3 separate regions of the Homo sapiens genome follow, and all the other regions are linked to region 3. Evidence: fine-mapped expression QTL. A gene starts in region 3. Each other region holds a variant in brackets. All regions are shown on one strand. Distances are from middle to middle. Region 1 overlaps CEP131 (centrosomal protein 131). Region 2 overlaps SLC38A10 (solute carrier family 38 member 10). Region 3 holds the start of NDUFAF8 (NADH:ubiquinone oxidoreductase complex assembly factor 8).

What was found. PIP is the estimated chance that this variant, and not a neighbour inherited with it, causes the effect.
Region 1: its variant is fine-mapped to the expression of NDUFAF8 in thyroid (GTEx, PIP 0.98).
Region 2: its variant is fine-mapped to the expression of NDUFAF8 in whole blood (INTERVAL, PIP above 0.99).

What each region holds. Positions count from the first base shown.
Region 1 is chr17:81,214,659-81,221,446 of GRCh38, reverse strand. It overlaps CEP131 (centrosomal protein 131), which reads left to right. Exons shown (of 26, transcript NM_014984.4): 2 at 1,374-1,567. The coding sequence starts at 1,391. Among named protein-coding and RNA genes, the nearest start is that of CEP131, 4.9 kb to the left of the region's middle. RefSeq lists an enhancer at 1-121. The variant G/A (reference allele first, on the strand shown) is at 3,105.
Region 2 is chr17:81,279,814-81,286,601 of GRCh38, reverse strand. SLC38A10 (solute carrier family 38 member 10) reads left to right here. Exons shown (of 16, transcript NM_001037984.3): 3 at 1,707-1,752; 4 at 3,100-3,193; 5 at 4,270-4,413; 6 at 5,869-5,993. Among named protein-coding and RNA genes, the nearest start is that of SLC38A10, 12 kb to the left of the region's middle. RefSeq lists a silencer at 659-953 and enhancers at 780-1,109, 4,200-4,713. The variant C/T (reference allele first, on the strand shown) is at 4,145.
Region 3 is chr17:81,236,446-81,242,311 of GRCh38, reverse strand. NDUFAF8 (NADH:ubiquinone oxidoreductase complex assembly factor 8) reads right to left here and starts at 2,994. Exons shown (of 3, transcript NM_001086521.2): 1 at 2,865-2,994; 2 at 2,634-2,744; 3 at 1,002-1,325. The coding sequence starts at 2,948. The coding sequence ends at 1,296. It overlaps TEPSIN (TEPSIN adaptor related protein complex 4 accessory protein), which reads left to right and starts at 3,257. Exons shown (of 13, transcript NM_001363764.2): 1 at 3,257-3,326; 2 at 4,853-4,925; 3 at 5,241-5,332; 4 at 5,511-5,604. The coding sequence starts at 3,279. RefSeq lists enhancers at 2,428-2,507, 2,888-3,107, 3,351-3,933 and silencers at 2,768-2,917, 3,160-3,375, 3,478-3,567.

The DNA.
Region 1 (6,788 bases), 21 kb after region 3:
CTAGGAAGCTGTTGCAGGGTTTTTGGCAGGGGCACATGCACGAGCTGAGACCCGTTCAGAAAGATCAGAAAGACTCGTTCAGAAAGAGGTGCCATGTGGGGACGGGCTGGGGGCCGGCAGGGTTTGCTCTGAGAAGTTCCAAAGTAAGGAAGCCAGCATCCCCAAGCTAATCCCCTCGATCGATCGTCAGAACCCCCGTCCCCTGCTGGAATAACACATTACCCAGGGAGTGTTTGCCCGGTGCAGCCTTGAGGCCTTGAGACCAGCATCTTGTCTGGACCTCACAAAACCACTCCCGCGTTTTTTTTTTTTTTTTTTTTTTGAGATGGAGTCTCGCTATGTTGCCCAGGCTGGAGTGCAGTGTCACGATCTTGGCTCACTGTAAACTCCGCCTACCAGGTTCAAGTAATTCCCCTGCTTCAGCCTCCCAAGTAGTTGGGATTACAGGCGCTCGCCACCACGCCCGGCTAATTTTTTGAAGTTTTTAGTAGAGGTGGGGTTTCACTGTGTTGCTTAGGCTGGTCTTGAACTCCTGAGCTCAGGCAATCTGCCTGCCTTGGTCTCCCAAAGTGCTGGGATTACAGGAGTGAGCCACTGTGCCCGGCCAACACGCAACCCCTTTTTAAAATGTGTATTTTTACTTAGGGGCCGGGTACGGTGGCTCATGCCTGTAATCCCAGCACTTTGGGAGGCCGAGGCAGGCGAATCACCTGAGGTCAGGAGTTCGAGACCAGCCTGGCCAACATGGCAAAACCCCGTTTCTACTTCTACTAAAAATACAAAAATTAGCCAGGCGTGGTGGCGGGCACCTGTAATCCCAGCTACTCAGGAGGCTGAGGCAGGAGAATCGCTTGAACCCGGGAGGCAGAGGTGGCAATGAGCCGAGATCGCGCCACTGCACTCCAGCCTGGGTGACAAGAACGAGACTCTGTTTCAAAAACATAATAAAATAAAAAATAAATCAAATGTCCCTTTTACAGAAGAAAACAGTGGGGCTCGGGGCAGTGACTTTCTCAGAATCACGGTGTGGGGTAGATGGCAGAACCTGGCTCACATCGACAATGGCCTGTGGCCCAGGCTCCCTCTGGGGTGCTGCTGGCTTATTCCCACCCACGGGCCTTGCCCTCGCCACCCACCTGTCCATCATCCAGGGCCCTCCTGCCCTGGCATACACTGACATTGGGCTCAGAACAGCTCCCTCATGTTCCTGTCGAGGAGCCTGCCACCAGCCAGAGGGGTGCATAGGTTGTGACAGGCCTTCCCAGGAAGTTTGGTGGCCAGTGGACCCAGCTGAGGCTGGGCTGGAGATGGTGGGTGCAGGGGACTGTAGTTCCCCCACGGCATCTCATTGCAGCTCTTGCTTCCCCGCTCAGGACCTGCCTTGTCCACCATGAAAGGCACCCGGGCCATCGGCAGCGTCCCGGAGCGCAGCCCAGCAGGTGTGGACCTGAGTCTGACAGGTCTCCCTCCGCCTGTGTCCCGGCGTCCTGGCAGTGCCGCCACCACCAAGCCCATCGTCCGCTCTGTCTCCGTGGTCACAGGCAGCGAGCAGAAGAGGAAGGTGCTGGTGAGTACTGTGGCCTAGGAGTCCGGGCCCCTGCCTCCTGGAGGGCTGTTGTTCAGTTGGCATCTGACCCCTGGGTCCAGCTCCACAGGTGAACAAGTGCCTCACATCTGGACATGCTGGATCCTCGTGGCTGTTCCAGGAGGCAGGTAGGACTTGAGTCTTACAGGCGTGGGTGCTGAATCACTAGAAAGTCAAGCCAGAGCTTGGATTCTTTCAGCAACAGCCCCAGGCCTCCTGTGCCACCGCCCTTTGGATTTGTTTGAATCCTCAGGAAATGGGGTTGGCTGGGCTCGGTGGCTCACGCCTGTAATCTCAGCACTTTGGGAGGCCGAGGCAGGCGGGTCATCTGAGGTCAGCAGTTCAAGACCAGCCTGACCAACATGGTGAAACTCCGTCTCTACTAAAGATACAAAAAAAAATTAGCCGGGCATGGTGGTGCATGCCTGTAATCCTAGCTACTCGGGAGGCTGAGGCAGGAGATTTGCTCGAACCCAGGAGGCAGAGGTTGCGGTGAGCCGAGATCGTGCCGTTGCACTCCAGCCTGGCGACAGAGTGAGATGCCATCTCAAAAAAAAAAAAAAAAGAAAGAAATGGGGTTGACCTGTGGGGAGGGGTGATGAGCTCCTGGTGGCCTTGGAGAAACCTAGACGGGTGTGTGGGTGTGTGGGCAGCAGGACAGCCGTGGGAGCTTCGGGGTGAGAGCTGCCTTTCCTGCCCACCTCTGGGAGTAGGGAGGAGGGTGGGTGGTTCCCAGATGGGGGCTGTGAAAGGCAGGCCGGGCCTGCTGCACCCTGAGTTGGTGTCTGCCAGGCCCAGTCTTTGGGGCAAGGGAGGAATCGAGCCGCTCTGTGGGGGTTGGGGCAGAGCCTGACCAGAGTCTGGCCTGAGCTTCCGAATAGCAAGGGCCTGGGGGCCTTGGCTTCCATGCGGCAGCCGGTCTGGGGCTCCCTGCCTGAGGTCCGTGCCAGGCAACATAGCAGGGCAGAGAGAAGGGGTCTGGAGGGCAGTTGAGGCTTCCCACAGGAACCCCTGGCAGGCCCAGGCCAGGGTTCCACTGTGAATAAAAGGCTTGGACCTCCCCCTTCTCCTTGAAAAAGTTATTCCTGTGTCTGCCCTAGAAGCACCCCCAGGTGGGCAGGGTGTGGCCCGCCAGACGGCTAGCCGAGTTCCGGGGTAAGGGCAGCCGGGCCAGTAGCGGACCCTTGGACCAAGCAGGTTCCCAAAGCCTGGGCCAGCAGGGCGGGGACCCGGGATGTCCTGATGTGTCATTGTGGCCGGCAGGTTGTCTAAAGATGTGGTACGCCTCTAGGCATTTACAGACGTAAGCTGTGAAAATAAAAATATGCTGCACTGTTTTAGCAGAGGGGTAACCAGCTTGGGCTAGAGCCGTCTCTGAGCCTGCTGCCTCTCCTGTCCGCAGCCCTGCTCCTGCGTCACTGACCCCCTCGCCCACCTGCCTTGGCCCCTCCCGCTGTTTCTAAAGCCCTAGGTTCATGGCACATGGGGCGGGGAAGACGCACTCGAAATCGCAGATCTG[G/A]GCTGGGCGAGGTGGCTCACGCCCGTGATCCCAGCACTTTGGGAGGTTGAGGCGGGTGGATCACCTGAGGTCAGGAGTTCAATACCAGCCTGGCCAACATAGTGAAACCCTGCCTCTACTGAAAATGCAAAAATTAGCCGGGCGTGGTGGCGCGCACCCTTAATCCCAGCTACTCAGGAGGCTGAGACAGGAGAGTTGCTTGAACCCGGGCGGAGGAGGCTGCAGTGAGCCGAGATCATGCCACTGTACTCCAGCCTGGGCGAAAGAGCAAGACTCTGTCTCAAAAAAAGAAAGAAAGAAAGAAAGAGGGAGGGGGAGGGGGAGGGAGAGGGAGAGGGAGAAGGAGAAAGAAAGAAATTGCAGCTCTCTTGTTGTGTGGAGACTGTTGTAAAAGTTTCCGGGCTTTCTAGTAGATGGTCTTTCGGCGGCATGGCCAGGCTCTATCCGCGGCCGACCCAGGCACCTAACCACACTCCCAGCCTTTCTGCTGGGAAATGTTCTGTTGCTGAGTAGAGGTTCAAAGCCACAGCGAGCGCTACTCATATCGATCCCTCCTTTCCTCGGCTGGTACCATTGCCCGCTCCCGCAGTGTTGAGTGGCGACTGCTAACAGTCCCCTCGTTCATGGAATGTTCCAGCTGTTCACTTCAATTCTTTGAGGCCCTCGCTCGATCCGAGACGGCCCCACCCCTGCATGCCTGTCTGCCTTCTGTTGTGCCCATGGTGGGAGCTCGGGAACTGCTGGTGGAAGAGGAACCCCCGCCAGTGTGTGACGTGACCTCAGGGGTTTCTGTTGTGCCCGGTCCCCATCCTCTCGGCCACCTGCCCTGCTACCACTCAGTCTCATCGGGATTCCTGGAGAGCATTTGTTTTGGCCAGGCATGGCTTCACACCTGTACAAGGCGGCACGTGATTCTCTTCCTCCTGGTGTTTGTGGGTGGGGTGGGGTGCTGTCCCCTGGCTCGGAGACCTTCTCGGTGGCCATTGGCCTGGGGTTTCCACTCTACCCCTTGTCTCTAAAGATCTTCCTGCGTCCACGGCCTGCTGTCCCGGGATTCCCCATCCAGGATGTAACTGCAGTTCCTGCTGGTCTTCTGGCTCAAGAGATGTCGGTGCCAGACTGTAGAGGGTCCCTCTTCCTTGCCCCAGCTGTGTGCCCACCTGATCCTCTAGCCCCCTAGATCATTATTCACTCTGGTTCCCTTCCCCTTAAAGAAAAGAGGTCTTTAAATCCCAAGAGCACAAGCTCACTGGGGAACAGACATCACTGTGCATATGTGTCATGGCCATGGGGGCCACCTGCCCCTCCCTGGGCGATGTTGCCTCCTTCTTGCAGGTGGAGTTTAGGGTTTTTAGTCCATGACTTGATTTACCATCTGAGCATGAGTGGTGCCTTTCCACCGTGGTGTCCGTCAGTGAGTGGCAGCCCCTTCATCCCTCCCCTGACATCCCTTATCTTCCTCTTGGAGGCTGCGAAACTGACCCCAGGAAAATGGAGACAGGATGAAGGGCACCCATAATCCCATGGCCCTGATGCAATGACTGGTGCCATTTTGGGGGATGATTTCAAAATTCCTACCATGTGTTTTGAATAGGCCATTCACACCCACCATTTGGGAAAAGGGGGCTCATTGAGCAGTGAGCCTGTCCTGCCCGACCTTGCGGGCCTCTCCTAGGCGGCCACTGTTCTGTTTCTCCTGCACCCACACTTACTCTGGGCACACAGGCATCAGTGATGCTGGAGATGTGTTGGAACAAGTGCCGTATCCGTCAGCTGCGTGGGGCTCCTGCATTCTCTTTTCTTTTTCTTTTTAAGACGGGGTCTTGCTCTGTTGCCCAGGCTGGAGTGCAGTGGAGAAACCACAGCTTACTGCAGCCTCCACCTCCCGGACACAAGTGATCCTCTTACCTCAGCATCCTGAGTAGCATGGATTACAGGTGCTCACCACCCTGCCCAGCTAATTTTTAATTTTTTTTTTCTTTTGAGACAGACTTTTGCTCTTTTTGCCCAGGCTGGAGTGCATTTGTGAGATCTCGGCTCACTGCAGCCTCTGCCTCCCGGGTTCAAGGGATTCTCCTGCCTCTGCCTCCCAAGAAGCTGGGATTACAGGCATGCACCACCATGCCCGGCTAATTTTGTATTTTTAGTAGCGACGGGGTTTCGCCATGTTGGTCAGGCTGGTCTTGAACTCTTGACCTCAGGTGATCCTCCTGCCTCAGCCTCCCGAAGTGCTGGGATTACAGGTGTGAGCCACCACACCCAGCCTACTAATTTTTAATTTTTTTGTAGGGACAGGGGTCTCACTAGGTTGCTGGTCCTTAACTCCTGGGCTGAAGCGATCCTCCCACCTCGGCCTCCCAAAGTGCTGGGATTACGGGTGTGGGCCGCTGCACCTGACCCTGCTCCCGCTTTCCTTACATTGTTTTGTAGCAGCTGACAATAGTTCATCAGATGATGCACCAGAACTTCACCCAGTGCTCCTCTGGATTTTCCTTATCATAGTACCAAGAGTGGCACAGCAAATACCCTGTGTCTTTGCCATTTTGCATACATGTAAATACGCCTGTAGAATAAATCCTAAAGGATAACTACTGGGTCAGAGCATAAGTCCATTTAAAATTTTGAAAGGGGGGCCAGGTGCGGTGGCCCGTGCCTGTAATCCCAGCACTTTGGGACGCCGAGGTGGGCAGATTGCTTGAGGTCAGGAGTTCGAGACCAGCCTGGCCAACACGGTGAAACCTCGTCTCTACTAAAAATAGAAAAAATAGCTGGACGTGGTGGCAGGCACCTGTAATGCCAGCTACACAGGAAGCTAAGGCAGGAGAACTGATTTAACCCGGAAGCTGGAGGTTGCAGTGAGCCAAGATCGCACCACCACACTCTAGCCTGGGTGACAGCGAGACTCCATTTCAAAAAAAATTAAATAAATAAAAAAATTTGAAAGGGGGCCGGGAGTGGTGGCCAATATCTGTAATCCCAGCACTTTGCGTGGCTGCGGTGGGAGGATCACTTGAGGCCAGGAGTTTGAGACCAGCCTGGGCAACATAGTGAGACCCCTGTCTCTACAAAAAAATTAAAAAATTAGCCGAGTGTGGTGGTGCATGCCTGTAGTCCCAGCTACATGGGAGGCTGGGGCAGGAGGATGGCTTGAACCCAGAAAGTTTGAGGCTGCAGTGAGCTATGATCATGCCACTGCTCTCCAGCCTGGGCAACAGAGTGAGACTCTATCTTTTAAAATTAAAATTAAAACTAAATTGTAAATTTTTGGCCAGGCGCGGTGGCTCATGCCTGTAATCCCAGCACTTTGGGAGGTTGAGGCAAGCAGATCACGAGGCCAGGAGATTGAGACCATCCTGGCTAACACGGTGAAACCCCATCTCTACTAAAAATACAAAAAAAAAAATTAGCCGGGCGTGGTGGCAGGCACCTGTAGTCGCGGCTACTCGGGAGGCTGAGGCAGGAGAATGGCGTGAACCCAGGAGGCGGAACTTGCAGTGAGCCGAGATCGCGCCACTGCACTCCACCCTGGGCGACAGAGCGAGATTCCGTCTCAAAAAAAATTTTTTTTTTTGATAGGCATTGCCAAGTTGCTGTCCGTAAAGATCATTGCCCTAAGTCACACTCGCATCACAGGGTGCCACGGGGCCTGCTCCCTCGTGCTCTGGTTGGCACACGTGCAGCACA
Region 2 (6,788 bases), 44 kb before region 3:
GGTCCCCGGGACCTTGCTGGGCGCTTCAGCCTCTTCCTCCCTTTCTCTGTGCCAGTCCACGCAGGATGTGAAGGAGTGGGGTCAGTCCAACTGGGGCTGGTGTTTGAACCTGGGGAGGAGAAGTTGCCGAGGGATTGACACTGGGAATGGCGGGTGAGGGTTTGGCCCAGGTGGGGAAAAGAAGGCGCGTGGGGCCGTGTCTCAGCGTGGTGGGCTCTCAGGACGTTGTCCTGGGAACCAGAAGAGAGTGCTGCCCTGATTTCCTAGACAGCCTCCCATTTTCCCTTGCCAGTGGCAGGCATATTCCGGAACCTTCTTGGGCAAGGTGCGCTCGTGTTTGGAATATGCTGTAGAGACTCAGCTTCCTTTTGGAGAATGAAAAGGCACATTATGGCCAGGAGCAACTTCATGTTTGGAGCGCCGTGTTTTGTTGCTTCCGGGCTGTGCCGTCACTGAGGGGTGTGGAGGGCGTTCCTTGGTGACAGCAGGGCCCTGGGCTGTGGGCTGCTGAGGGGGCTCCTGGAGTTCTTAGTGTTTGAAACTCTCCACAGCCTCAGGTCAGCTTCTGGGGCCTGGCTCGGGTTTCCGTGTTGTGGGATGAACTCAAGGGGTGCCAGGCTTCTTCAGCGAGCCCATAGGCAGGTCCAGGAAAGGCCAGGGTGAGCCCTGGAGGTGGGGTCTTTGCTGCTCCCGGGCTCTGGCGTTTGGCAACGCTGTGCTTCTTCCTAAGTAGTTTAAAGTAATAAGGAGTGTTTTTTGGACCCATTCATAGTTACTAGCCTGTGTGTTTCCTGCTTTCCAAAGCTCATCAGAGGCCTGTAGCCCGTGGGAGGAAGGAAACCAGGGGCAGGAAGCTGGGGCTGCCGACGGGGCTGGGCCATCCTGCCACATGCACCGCATCTCTGGGTGCGCCTTGGAGCCGGGACTTCCCTTTGCCCTTCTCCGGCTGGGCCGTGGGGGAAGCGCGGGGGTCACCAGATGACCGCTCGGGGCCTGGGAGGGACCCTGCTGAGTCAGCGCCGTTTCTCATCTGCTGCAGAGAATCCCGCGGTCAGGGCGGAGAGAATGGCGGCTCCTTCCGCATTCGGCCGCCCCGTCGGGAACGCATGCTCCTCATCGGCAAGGCTCCTCATTAGCTGTCCACGTGGACACCACAAGCCCAGGGCTCTCGTCCCCTCCCTTCCTGAAGCACCATGCTCGAAAGGAGTCTCCATTTGTTTCTATAAATCCCAACCAAAGGGTGAAAATGAAAGCCCTCCGTCAGAGTCCCTCTGGTGCAGGCTGTGGCGCTCGGGTACCTGGGACCGGCACTGAACCCTCTGGGGACCTGCAAGCTCTGGCCAGCAGCACGGGGTTCGGCCGTGCTGGGCTGTGGGATGCTGTTTCCAGCCGGCCCCCAGTGGTCACCGGGTGGGAGGACTGCATCGCAGGGACTTGTCTCTTTGTCTGTTAAAAAATCTGATTGAGTGAAAGAAGAACCTGCCTCCTGTCCTTCCCTTGCTCTGTCTTTGTTTCTTGTAGTTTCATTTGCAGACAGTAGATCCAAAAATAACCTGGCAGCCAGAATTTGAAATACCCCTCATGCCCCGGAGAATCTGGGCCCGTGGGTTTCTGTGAAATCGCCCTTGACAGCTTGGCTCAGTACCTTTGTTCTGGACGAGCTTCTCACGCTGTTGGATTGAGTGTTCCTTTTTCTTTTGCACTAGCATTCCACGCCTACGGGAAGGCAGGCAAGATGCTGGTGGAGACCAGGTAAGCCCCGCCCTGCCGCTGCGCTTGCCCCCCACCCCCGCACCCAGACACTGGGGACCCTCCCGGTGGGAGCGGCAGTTTCATCCCCAGATTCACCTGTAACTTAGGTTTCTGAAGAGTCGCTAAATACATGAAAGTCCAATTACTTGTACCCTTCAGTGTTGTAAGAAAAATTTATGTATGGAAAACTCCAAGAACCTGGTAAACAGTCCTCCCTCAGTTGTAGTCTCTCAACACCATTCCTCAGCACCTCACCTACCCCTCAAACACCGCTGCATAAAGGTGGCATTACATTGCAAATGTCATATTTTTCTTCCTTTGGCATAAAATTTCATGAGATGAAAAAATTTATGAGATGAAAAAATCGCTGGGAGATTGCACTTCTAGGCTTCTAAATTAGGGAATTGTAAACTCAAACGAACAGCCTTTTTTGAAAGCAGTTGATTGTTCTCTTAACTTGACTAACATCGTGGGGCTTTTTCAATTTTTTTATTTTTTGAGATGGAGTTTTGCTCTGTCACCCAGGCTGGAGTGCAATGCTGTGATCTCGGCTCACTGCAACCTCCCAGGTTTAAGCGATTCTCCTGCCTCAGCCTCCGAAGTAGCTGAGATTACAGGCGCGTGCCACCAGGCCCAGCTAATTTTTGTATTTTTAGTAGAGACAGGGTTTTGCCGTGTTGGCCAGGCTGGTTTTGAACTCCGGATCTCAGGTGATCCGCCTGCCTCGGCCTCCCAAAGTGCTGAGATTACAGGCGTGAGCCACTGTGCCAGGCCCATCATGGAGATTTTTGTAACTTTTAGAGCCTCCGCAGAGGGGCGAGTATAATACCAGGCTGAGAAAAGCTGAGTGTCGTTTGGTGTGCATGCCAAGTGACATAGCGAGCGCCACAGAACCTGCCCGCGCCCTGTGAACTGGGGCGCGTTTGAAATCACATCTGTTGGCCAGGCACAGTGGCTCACGCCTGTAATCCCAGCACTTTGGGAGGCTGAGGCAGGCGGATCACAGAGGTCAGGAGATCGAGACCATCCTGGCTAACACGGTGCAACCCCGTCTCTACTAAAAATACAAACAATTAGCCGGGCGTGGCTACTCGGCTACTCCCAGCTACTCGGGAGGCTGAGGCAGGAGAATGGCGTGAACCTGGGAGGCGGAGCTTGCAGTGAGCCGAGATCTCACCATTGCACTCCAGCCTGGGCGACAGAGTGAGACTCTGTTTCAAAAAAAAAAAAAAGAAAAAAGAAATCACATCTGTCATTCAGCCCAGCCTTGGGGTAGTCCCTGGCGGCAGCCCAGGTGTGTGCCAGCTTGCCCTGATGGCATTTCCCGTACCCCCCGTCCCTGTGCAGCATGATCGGGCTGATGCTGGGCACCTGCATCGCCTTCTACGTCGTGATCGGCGACTTGGGGTCCAACTTCTTTGCCCGGCTGTTCGGGTTTCAGGTAAGGATGTGTTCAGGGTTCTGGGTTGTTCAGATGCTGACGGCTGCTCTGAGGCCCTCTGTGGGATCCTCCCGAGGACCGAGACCTGGGTGCTGGTCGGGAGAAGCTTCTGTCGAGCCTGCTGTCATTCTAGGGGCTTGGTGGAGTGCGGGGGCTTTGCTGGGTCACGTCTGTGAGAGGTACACGCGAGGAAGCAAGCCAGGCAGAGTCTGACACCATGTAGATGAGGGGCGGGTGGGGGAGCCTCAGACCCGGGCACAGTGCAGAGCAAGTCTCTGCCAGCCCGGGCTGCCCATTGGAGGGCAGAGGCGGCCAGGCCCTCAGGCATCCCCGGCCTCCATGGTCACCCAGAGCTTCTGGGGGCTGTGGACTCAGCACTTCTTGCAGGGACCTTGGGGTAGCCTCCTCCGTGCTTGCCCCCCACCACAGAGAGGCCCACCTGACGGGCCCACACACCTTTCCCTCGCTGCCGGGGAGCAGAGCCCCTCACTGGGCAGGGCAGGCATCACGGCACGTTAGGGTGCTAACAGCGTAGAAAGGCTTTCAAAGGCCACTGAGGCGGGGGTGTCCTCTCCAGGAGTGGAATGTACCAGATTCGCTCCTTGTCAGAGACAGTTCCAAGGAGCATCCAGGGAGCTAGGTCCCCTACTCTGTCTCCCCATTCGACCTTCCGTTTTCCGTGCTTCGTAGTGGCCTTTGTAGCTAGAGCTTTGGGCCCGTCCTGCCCACAGGGCAGTCTGCACCTTTCCCACCCCTCGCCCAGGGCAGCTGAGTCCGACTCACAGCCACTGTGTTGCCTCCCGTGTTAGGGGGGCTGCTGTCCTGCTCTGGCTGGTCTCGCTGTGGGGCTGGGCTGGGCTCCAGGGAGGGGAAATACCCAGTGTCCGAGGCTGCACACGGCACAGTGGCTGTGAGAGCGGCTTCGGGCGAGTGTGCCAGCCTCAGACCCGC[C/T]GGCGTCATTCACCTGGATGCCGTCGGCTTTCGGGCTCGGGGCGCTCCCACTCCCTGTCAGTGCAGAGAGCCCGGTGGTGAGCAGGCACGGGCTGTGGCCAAGACCCCCTGCCGGCTCCCCGCAGGTGGGCGGCACCTTCCGCATGTTCCTGCTGTTCGCCGTGTCGCTGTGCATCGTGCTCCCGCTCAGCCTGCAGCGGAACATGATGGCCTCCATCCAGTCCTTCAGCGCCATGGCCCTCCTCTTCTACACCGTGTTCATGTTCGTGGTGAGTCGGCAGCGCGCGTGGGTACCCGCTGAAAGGCTGCTCCTGGCCCATTCTTTCCTGTGGCCACAGCAGGCTCGTGCCCAGGTCTGGTGTGGCCGCCTGCTGCCTCCTGGGAATGTGTTGGAAGTAGCAGGATGTACCAGGAAGTGCCATTCATCTCATGGTCCCTGGGCACCATGGGGCAGACGGGGCTGGCTGGACCCAGGTGCGGTTGGCTGGCAGGAGAGGCTGGGGCTCAGGGCAGGGGTGGCTCTGAGGCTGGTTTCATGTCGTCCAGGCAAGGTGAAGGAAACTCCAAGTCCACTTGCTTTATGCAAAGATGTCTTATGTAGGGTTTGTGACCAAGGCTCACGGTGCCAGTGTTTTGACACAAGGTGGCAAGCTATTGTTGTTTGTTTGTTTGTTTGTTTTTTGAGACGGAGTCTCACTTTGTCGCCCAGGCTGGAGTGCAGTGGCGCAATCTCGGCTCACTGCAACCTCCATCTCCTGGGTTCAAGTGATTCTCCTGCCTCAGCCTCCCAAGTAGCGGGGATTACAGGTGCCCGCCACCACACCTGGCTAATTTTTTTTATTTTTAGTAGAGAAGGGGTTTCACCATCTTGGCCAGGCTGGTCTCGAACTCCTGACCTTGTTACCCACCCGCCTCAGCCTCCCAAAGTGCTGGGGTTACAGGCATGAGCCACCACGCCCGGCCGCTATTATTTTTCTAAATGAGAATTTATAATAGGATGGACTAGGGGCCAGCTGTGGAGTTGGCACTGAGAACACGGATACCACCCAGAGCCCCCAGCACACCCTCCATTCTCTGCCAGGCCCCTGCCCATAGGAGCCCCAGGACCCGAGCCCCTGGGACCTTCCTGTTCCCTGGCAAGGTCAGAAATGACCCTTCCTGAGTGGCTGGAACCTGGGTGTCTCACAGCGGGTTTGCACCAGGACGAGGCCAGGTGGTCATTGAAGCCAGGGTCTCCAGTGCTCCTCAGCTCTCCGAGTGAGGGCCAGCCCAGTGGCAGCTACCTCTTTACTCTTGAGACAGCCGCGTCCTGGTGGGCCAGTCTTTTGGAAAATGTCCATGTCTAACACAGTACAAGATGGGGAGGGACCTGCCCACGTGGGAAACCAGCCTCTGTAACCGACGGAAACTGGGGCCATGCATGCTCAGTGGTCTCCTCCCGTCTGCGCCAAGCAGCCCCCTTGCAAGAGCAGCTGCTCTGGTGCCCGCGGGATGAACCAGGGTGCTCTGAGGCAGGGGTTGGGAATCCAGAAAGGCGCGGGGTCTCCCTGCCTCCAGCTGGCGGCACAAGGCGGCACAGGGCGGCACAGGGTGGTGGGGGGCTGGGATGTGGGTGGGAAGAGCTGCACTCTCCTGCCACTCCTTCCTAGCGGCGCGTGGGCCGGGATGCTGAGTCCCGCCTGCGTCCTGACCTGCCCCGTGCTCTCTCCCCTCTCCCTCTGCAGATCGTGCTCTCCTCTCTCAAGCACGGCCTCTTCAGTGGGCAGTGGCTGCGGCGGGTCAGCTACGTCCGCTGGGAGGGCGTCTTCCGCTGCATCCCCATCTTCGGCATGTCCTTCGCCTGCCAGTCGTAAGTGTCCTGCTGTGGTCTGTGGTGGAGTTCTGTGACGGGGAGGGCGAGCTGCTGGGAGACGGGACCCTCTCTTTCTCGTTTACTGTGATCGCTCTTTGCTGGCTGCTAAAGAGTGATGTCTTGTTCAGTGATGACCTTTCCCGCCCCAGGTTGAGGGAGATAGTTATATTTTAATCGGGAGGTAAATCGGCTTCATTCCTGGGACATGTTTGGGACTAGCTGGTGAGAGTCCCTGGTTTGCCAGATCCCCACAAGCAGAGCATTGGCTGTGGGGGATGCAGCAGCAACCCAGCCATCTGACTGCACAGAGTCGAGCGCTTCGCCAGAATTTAGCTGTTCTGAGAATATTTAAAAGGAAATGGCACAAACATTGACTTCAGACGGCTGCTGGATGCATTTGGAGGCCTGCATGTGCGCGCGAGCCTGCTTTCTCTCTGGCACGCAGGGCTCTGTAAATGTGGATCGGGCTCTTCCATAATTCCAGCAGCATTACCTTCTCCACCAAAATGACAAGAGCGAGTGATTCGTGCCCGGTTGGAACATGGTAACCGGCTGAAAAGAGAGGCGTAAATCCGGCGCAGACGGGAAAAGACCATCGGCATGCGGGGGGCTGGCAGAGCGGCCCCTGTAGCGTTAGTGGGCATGCATTGAGCCAATCGTAAACTAATGTGACAGATGAAATTTGTTCATACCGCTGTGTTTACACCCACATGCGAGATCCAAATCGTCATTTCCCACTTAGCGTCTCTCTTGGCAGCTCCATCTCCACCAGAACGCGCCCCAGTCTTGCTG
Region 3 (5,866 bases):
CAGGGCTAAGAAAAGGACGTCTGCACACTGAGGCTCGCTCATGGATGAGTGCTGGGCACAAGAAGGAGGAAGGCAGGGGTGGGGGGCAGCCGGCCCTGCACGCTGGGGAGGCGGGTCGGGTGGTTTGTGCCAGCGCAGGGCATCTGAGTCTGGCATGCACAGGGATGGACTGCGGTGGCTTGACCCCAGGAGTCTGGTCTGGATTTCCGTGGTTCCCAAGATGTGACACTATCCTGGCCCTTGGGACAAAATCCAGCACTCTGGCCTGGCTCCTGCAGACCCACCACCCAGATCAGACCCTTAGGGGAAACCAGGTTAATTCTGGGGCAGCATCTGGAGGAGGAAACATGGAGGAACAGACCTCAGCCCACGGGGTCAGCCGCTAGCACGGGCCTGGGGGCAGGCGCAGGCTGCAGCCCCAGGAAAGTGCAGCCTCTGCACCCCGGAGCAGGGGGGCTCTCAAAGCAGTCCCCGCCACGCCCTGCAGGTGGCGCTCAGGCCCCATGGACTCCGGGGTCTCACCATCAACAAGTGCCCGGGCAGAGTCAGGATGTGGCCCTTCTCACCTTAGTTTTAGGTCAAGTGATGTGATAGGGAGGGGGAACGAGAGGGCAGGCGCCATCGGTGAAGTACCTGGGCTGCCGAGGGGGCGACCAACCCCACACAGGAGGGGCACTGGCTGCTGGTGCTCTACGCAGGCCCCTCTCGGAGACTCAGGCCCTTTTGTGAAGAGCCTCCGCCCTGCCCCGTGTCCAGGAAAGCCACCTGCGAGGACCCTGCCCCATGGAGTGTCCCCTCGTGGTGCTGACGTCCTTGTCTTTGGTGTGTGCTGTATACCCACAGCAAGGTCTGCAGGCTTCACCAGATTCACATTAAATACCTTAGTGAGAGTGTTTTAAAACGGGGACCTTGAGGCAGGGTGTCCCCAAGTCCCAGCCCTGCCAGCTTTGGGGGAAAGGCTCTGGGCCCCATTCCATCTCAGAGAGGCCAAGACCCACATGTTGCAGTCTGCACACAGTAAGCCCCAGGCTGCAGGATTTGACCGAGTCTTTATCGTGGCTTCCGTTACATCTTATTCTAACTCAGGTTTACGGACACAATGCTGGAAAACCAATTCCTGCTCTACCCACGCCTCAACTTGTTAAGAAAAAACAGGATCTAACACCGAGGAATGTCACATCTTCGCCATTCCCACTTCCTTTCTGCCCTAGGCATTCGATATGTGCCACCAGGGGCCATCAGGACTAGGGCTCTGCACCCATGGCAGCAGACAGGTGTGAAGCTCAGAGTCCCTCCTAACAGCCTCCCTCCAGCGTCTTCTTGGCCTGCAAGATAAAGTGTTTTGTCTGAATGGCTTGCTTCCAAGTTAGATACGCCTCAAAAGCAAGCTACCACACCACACGTTGTGTTCTACCAAATACCTTACAGAGAACTTGGGTGCTGGCATATGGTGGGGGCTCGACTGGTTGGAGCCTGGGGCCCCATGGGCAGGTTCTCTGGGTCACTTGTCCACGGGACAAGGGCCTCATGACACTATCACAGAACTCACTGCTGCCCCCTCCTCTGAGCCCCCACGAGATGCCACATTTGGTCTCAAGCTCTCATAGAGGGAAAGCAGGAGCCCCCCCCCTTTTTTTTTTTTTGAGATGCAGTCTCACTTTGTTGCCTAGGCTGGAGTACAGCAGCGTGATCTCGGCTCACTGCAACCTCCACCTCCCAGGTTCAAGTGATCTTCCCACCTCAGCCTCCCAAGTAACTGGGACTACACCACCATGCCTGGCTAATTTTTTTTTTCTTTTTTTTTGTAGAGACGGGGTCTCCATATGTTGCCCAGGCTGGTCTCAAACTTCTAGGCCTAAGCAATCCACCCACCTCAGCCTCCCAAAGCGGTAGGATTACAGGCACGCGCCACCACACCCAGCAAAAAGTGCAACTTCTGATGAGTTGTCCACCCCTGGATCCAAGGCTGCTGGGGCCGGGTAGGGATGAAGGCCGTGGAACTCTTGTTCAAATACCCTTTCTCTGGTCCAAATCTCCGGATTAACAGCTCCCAGTAAACAGAGTCAGCACTGGCATCAAGGCCTACCCAGATACACTGAGGTGGTACCCGGTGCGGCTGACACTTAGGGAACCAGCCTCAGAATGACTTAAAGCCCCACGGGCAAGAAGCCCTATCGTGCCAGTTGTGAGGGTGGCTGGGGGTTCCCCGCAGGACACGTGCTGAAGGAATCCACCACTGCAGGTGCACAGGGGCTGCAAGTGCCAGGGAGGTGAAGACCCGGAAGGTGCTGGGCACTTTCCGGGAGTCCTGTGTTGGGTCAATCCTGGCATGACACCCCCCGGCGGCAGTGCTAACACGAAAGCTTACGCGTTTTACAAGGCGCTTTTTTGCACACATCTCCCATCCTTTCTGAGGTTGGTGCCAGTCCCGCTTTACAAACATGCAGGGACAAGCCCAGGACGGCCGAGGTTTCGCGGGCTCGTCGATGGCTCGGTGATTTTGTCAGCCGGCGTCTAAAGCACGCGGCAGGCGCTCAAACCTTGAACCAACGGGAAAGCAAAGGAAAGCCGGGGCCCGCTGGCTCTTGGAGGGGAAGGGCTGGGAAGGGGGGAAGGGGCCCGCGCCCACCTACCGCAGCGGCGAAGCAGCTCCGCAGGGCCTCGAACTCCCGCGCGCAGAAGTCCTTACTCAGGCGGCCGCCCGGGGCCGTGGAGGCCTGCACGCACCTGCCGTACGCCGCGGCCTGCGGAAAGGACGGGCGTGGGTCGTGGGGTCCCCTGACCCCGTCACCGTCCTCCCTCCCAGCCACCTCCCCGCGCGGCTCCTCCTGCCCCGCAGCACTGGCCCGCCCGCGGCTCCTCACCTCGGCCCCGCAGGCGGCCAGCCGCTCGGGGAAGGCGCGGAGGCGGCTTCGCACGCGGCCCCACACCGCTCCGTTAGCCGACATGAGCGGCTATTCCCAGCCCCCTGGAGGCCGCCATCTTAGGTCCGTCCTCTTCCGGTGTCAAACAGCTTGATAGGTCGGCGCTTCCGCCCATAACCTTTCCTGAACTTCTTAATTGGCCAGGCTTTGCCTGGCCTCGAGCCCCCGCAATTGGCTCTTGTCCTAGTCTGTCTGTGCTCTGGGACTTCGGATTGGCCTAGGCTCCAATTGTTTACGAAGCCAACCTCAGGGCCCGCCCTACCGTGAGGGATTGGCCGGCGGACCCAGACCCGCGCAGTGATTGGAGGGCCCGGGCCTGGCGGAAGCGGGGCAGACCGGGAGGGGACCTGGATCATGGCTGCCGCGCCGCCGCTACGGGACCGCCTGAGCTTTCTACACCGGGTGAGTGAGGGCGGTCCGCCCGGGCCCCGGTCCCACGGCTCCTCTCGAGCGCCGCATTCCCCGGACTCGCCCCGGGCCGGAGCCATTGACCTTGCGTCTCCGCGCCGGGTAGCTGCTCCTGGCCCCTTCGCCCGCGCCGACGCCCCTGAGCTGCCCGCCCGCCGCGCCGTCCCGGGGCCTTCCAAGCCGGGCCTTCCAAGCCGGACCCGCCGAGCGCAAGGGCGATGGGCACAGCCAGACCCTGGGGGAACGAACAGGCCTCGGCCAGCATTCAGTGGCCTCCGACGGGAGGGAAGGAGCGGCGGACCCGGTGGACGTGGAGCCGCTGTGTCCGTGCTGCTGGCGCCCAGGTGGGCTGGCAGCCCGCCGTCCTCCCTGACGGTGGCGTTTCAGAGGACTCCGGTCCTGGAGAGGCACCCCTGGGTTGCAGAGAACACAGACGTCTCGAAGGGACAGAGAAGGACGCACCATTGTAAGCCCCTCTTAGTAAACCCTCTGAGAAGTAGAGGCCGGGGCGAGTTCCCAGGTGTCGTCCTGAGCAAACTGCCCTCTTTTGTCAGCCCTGAGCTTTCCTGGGCTGGACCTCAGAGGGGGCTGGGTGGTCCCAGGGCGCGACCTTGGGCTGCCAGAAGCCACGCTAGGGTTGGTCAAGGCTCTCAGTGCAAGGTTTCGACATAGTCGTTCTGTGCTGCGTTCTGCAGTTGTCAGCTGTCACCTGCAAACCTCAGCAGCTCCCCTTAGGGCGTGGTGGGCAAACAGTGTCAGTGATGCGTGTCCACAGCCTCGGGAAACACTTCAGGTCCACGTTTTCGTATGTTGTCACTAGATCTCGGCCCTTCCGACCGAAAGGCTTCGGCACCTCACGCGGTGGGTCCCATGCTTGTCCTGTTAAATACTCTTGAACTCTATTCTGTCCTGATACTGAATAATGCAAGAATGGGTGGTTCCAGTTTTCATCCCTATAAACCGTACATCTTTGTGCCAGTAAGTAAGCATGAAACAAATAAGTACGTCTGCGCTAAGCGAACGTAAAACACACGACATCAGTCGGTTCTCGGGGAGCGATGGAGCTAGTCACGCTGAGCGGCTGTCACTCTGCCATTCCGGCCTCTGGGGAGGTGGAACGATTCATAGTCCCCTGTGTGGAAAAGGGGCTTGCCTGGGCCTTGTTTGGCTTTGCTAGTCAGTAGGTAGGTACAGGAGAGGTACCTTCAAATAGCCTTACATGCTGGTAAGTGCAGGGAGGCTGGGGGCTGTGTCCCTTCTTAACCCAAGTGGCGCAGCTCCTCCGTGGAGAACCACCATTGATTTGCCTCTTCTCCGAGGCTGTTCATCCCTGACTGTTGAGAGAGGACCCTGCTGCAGCCTCCCTGTGGCCAGTAGCACAGTTCTCATCCCTTCCCAGTCCTCTCTCCGGCCATGTCAACAGTGAGAGGTGGGTCGTTTCCATCCCCTTTGGGGGGCTGCGGATTCACCCCTGTGGGAAATGGCACCTCATCATGGTAGGGGCTCTTGTTCCCTTTCAGCTCCCGATTCTCCTGAAGGGGACGTCCGATGATGATGTCCCGTGTCCGGGCTACCTGTTTGAAGAGATTGCTAGTATCCTTCCTTGATGTCCCCGTGTAGTGGAAAGAGCGGATGGCAGGGTCCCAGAGTGGTGCAAAGGGTTCCTGGGGATTCTGCTGTCCCTAGGGGGATGCACGGCTCCTTTATTATTGTAACCAGGCATGGGTGGGGTCTGAAGGCTGCAATACTGATGACACAGGGGACCCTAGAAGCCCAGGTGCTCCTGATGGCAGAGCCTCCAGTAGGCGCCTCCAGGGAGCGTGAACTGAGAGGCCCCATGGCCTGGTCTCCCTGCGGCCTGGCGCAGCCCTCATCATCTCGCCCTTCCCTAACCCGAGCGTGCCGCAGAAATCTCCCACGAGTCTCCGGGCAGCAGCCAGTGCCTGCTGGAGTACCTCCTGAGCCGCCTGCACAGCAGCTCCGGCCACGGGAAGCTCAAGGTGAGCCCCTGGGTGGTCAAGGGTCAGGCCTGAGGCCCGGCCCACGGTGGTGAGGATGGAGGAGCAGACGAGCGGCCCAGGGTGGCAGGCAGCTCTGTGCCCTTGGGGTGCCCCCGGGCCCTGCCCTGGGTGTCCCGTGTCCGGCCTGCCCAGCACTGCTGACCGCCCCACTCCCCAGGTGCTGAAGATCCTGCTCTATCTGTGCAGCCACGGCTCCTCCTTCTTCCTGCTCATCCTCAAACGCAACTCTGCCTTCATCCAGGAAGCTGCAGGTACAGGGGCCGCGCACGCGCTCAGGAAGAGCCAGGGCTTTGGAGAATGGGGGAGGGTGGCGGATCCTCCAGGTTTGAGAAGGAAGACTTCAGCCAGAGCCCTCACCTGGGCCGGGTCCCGATCAAAGCCCCGCCTTGCTGATCCTGGCCCATCTCTGGCCTCTCCACCTGCTGCCCACCCTCACCCCAGCTGGCCGGCTCGGCCTCCCCTGACGCGCCCTGCCCCCTCCCTCCGCTGGGTCCTCCGTGCCTCCTATGCGTC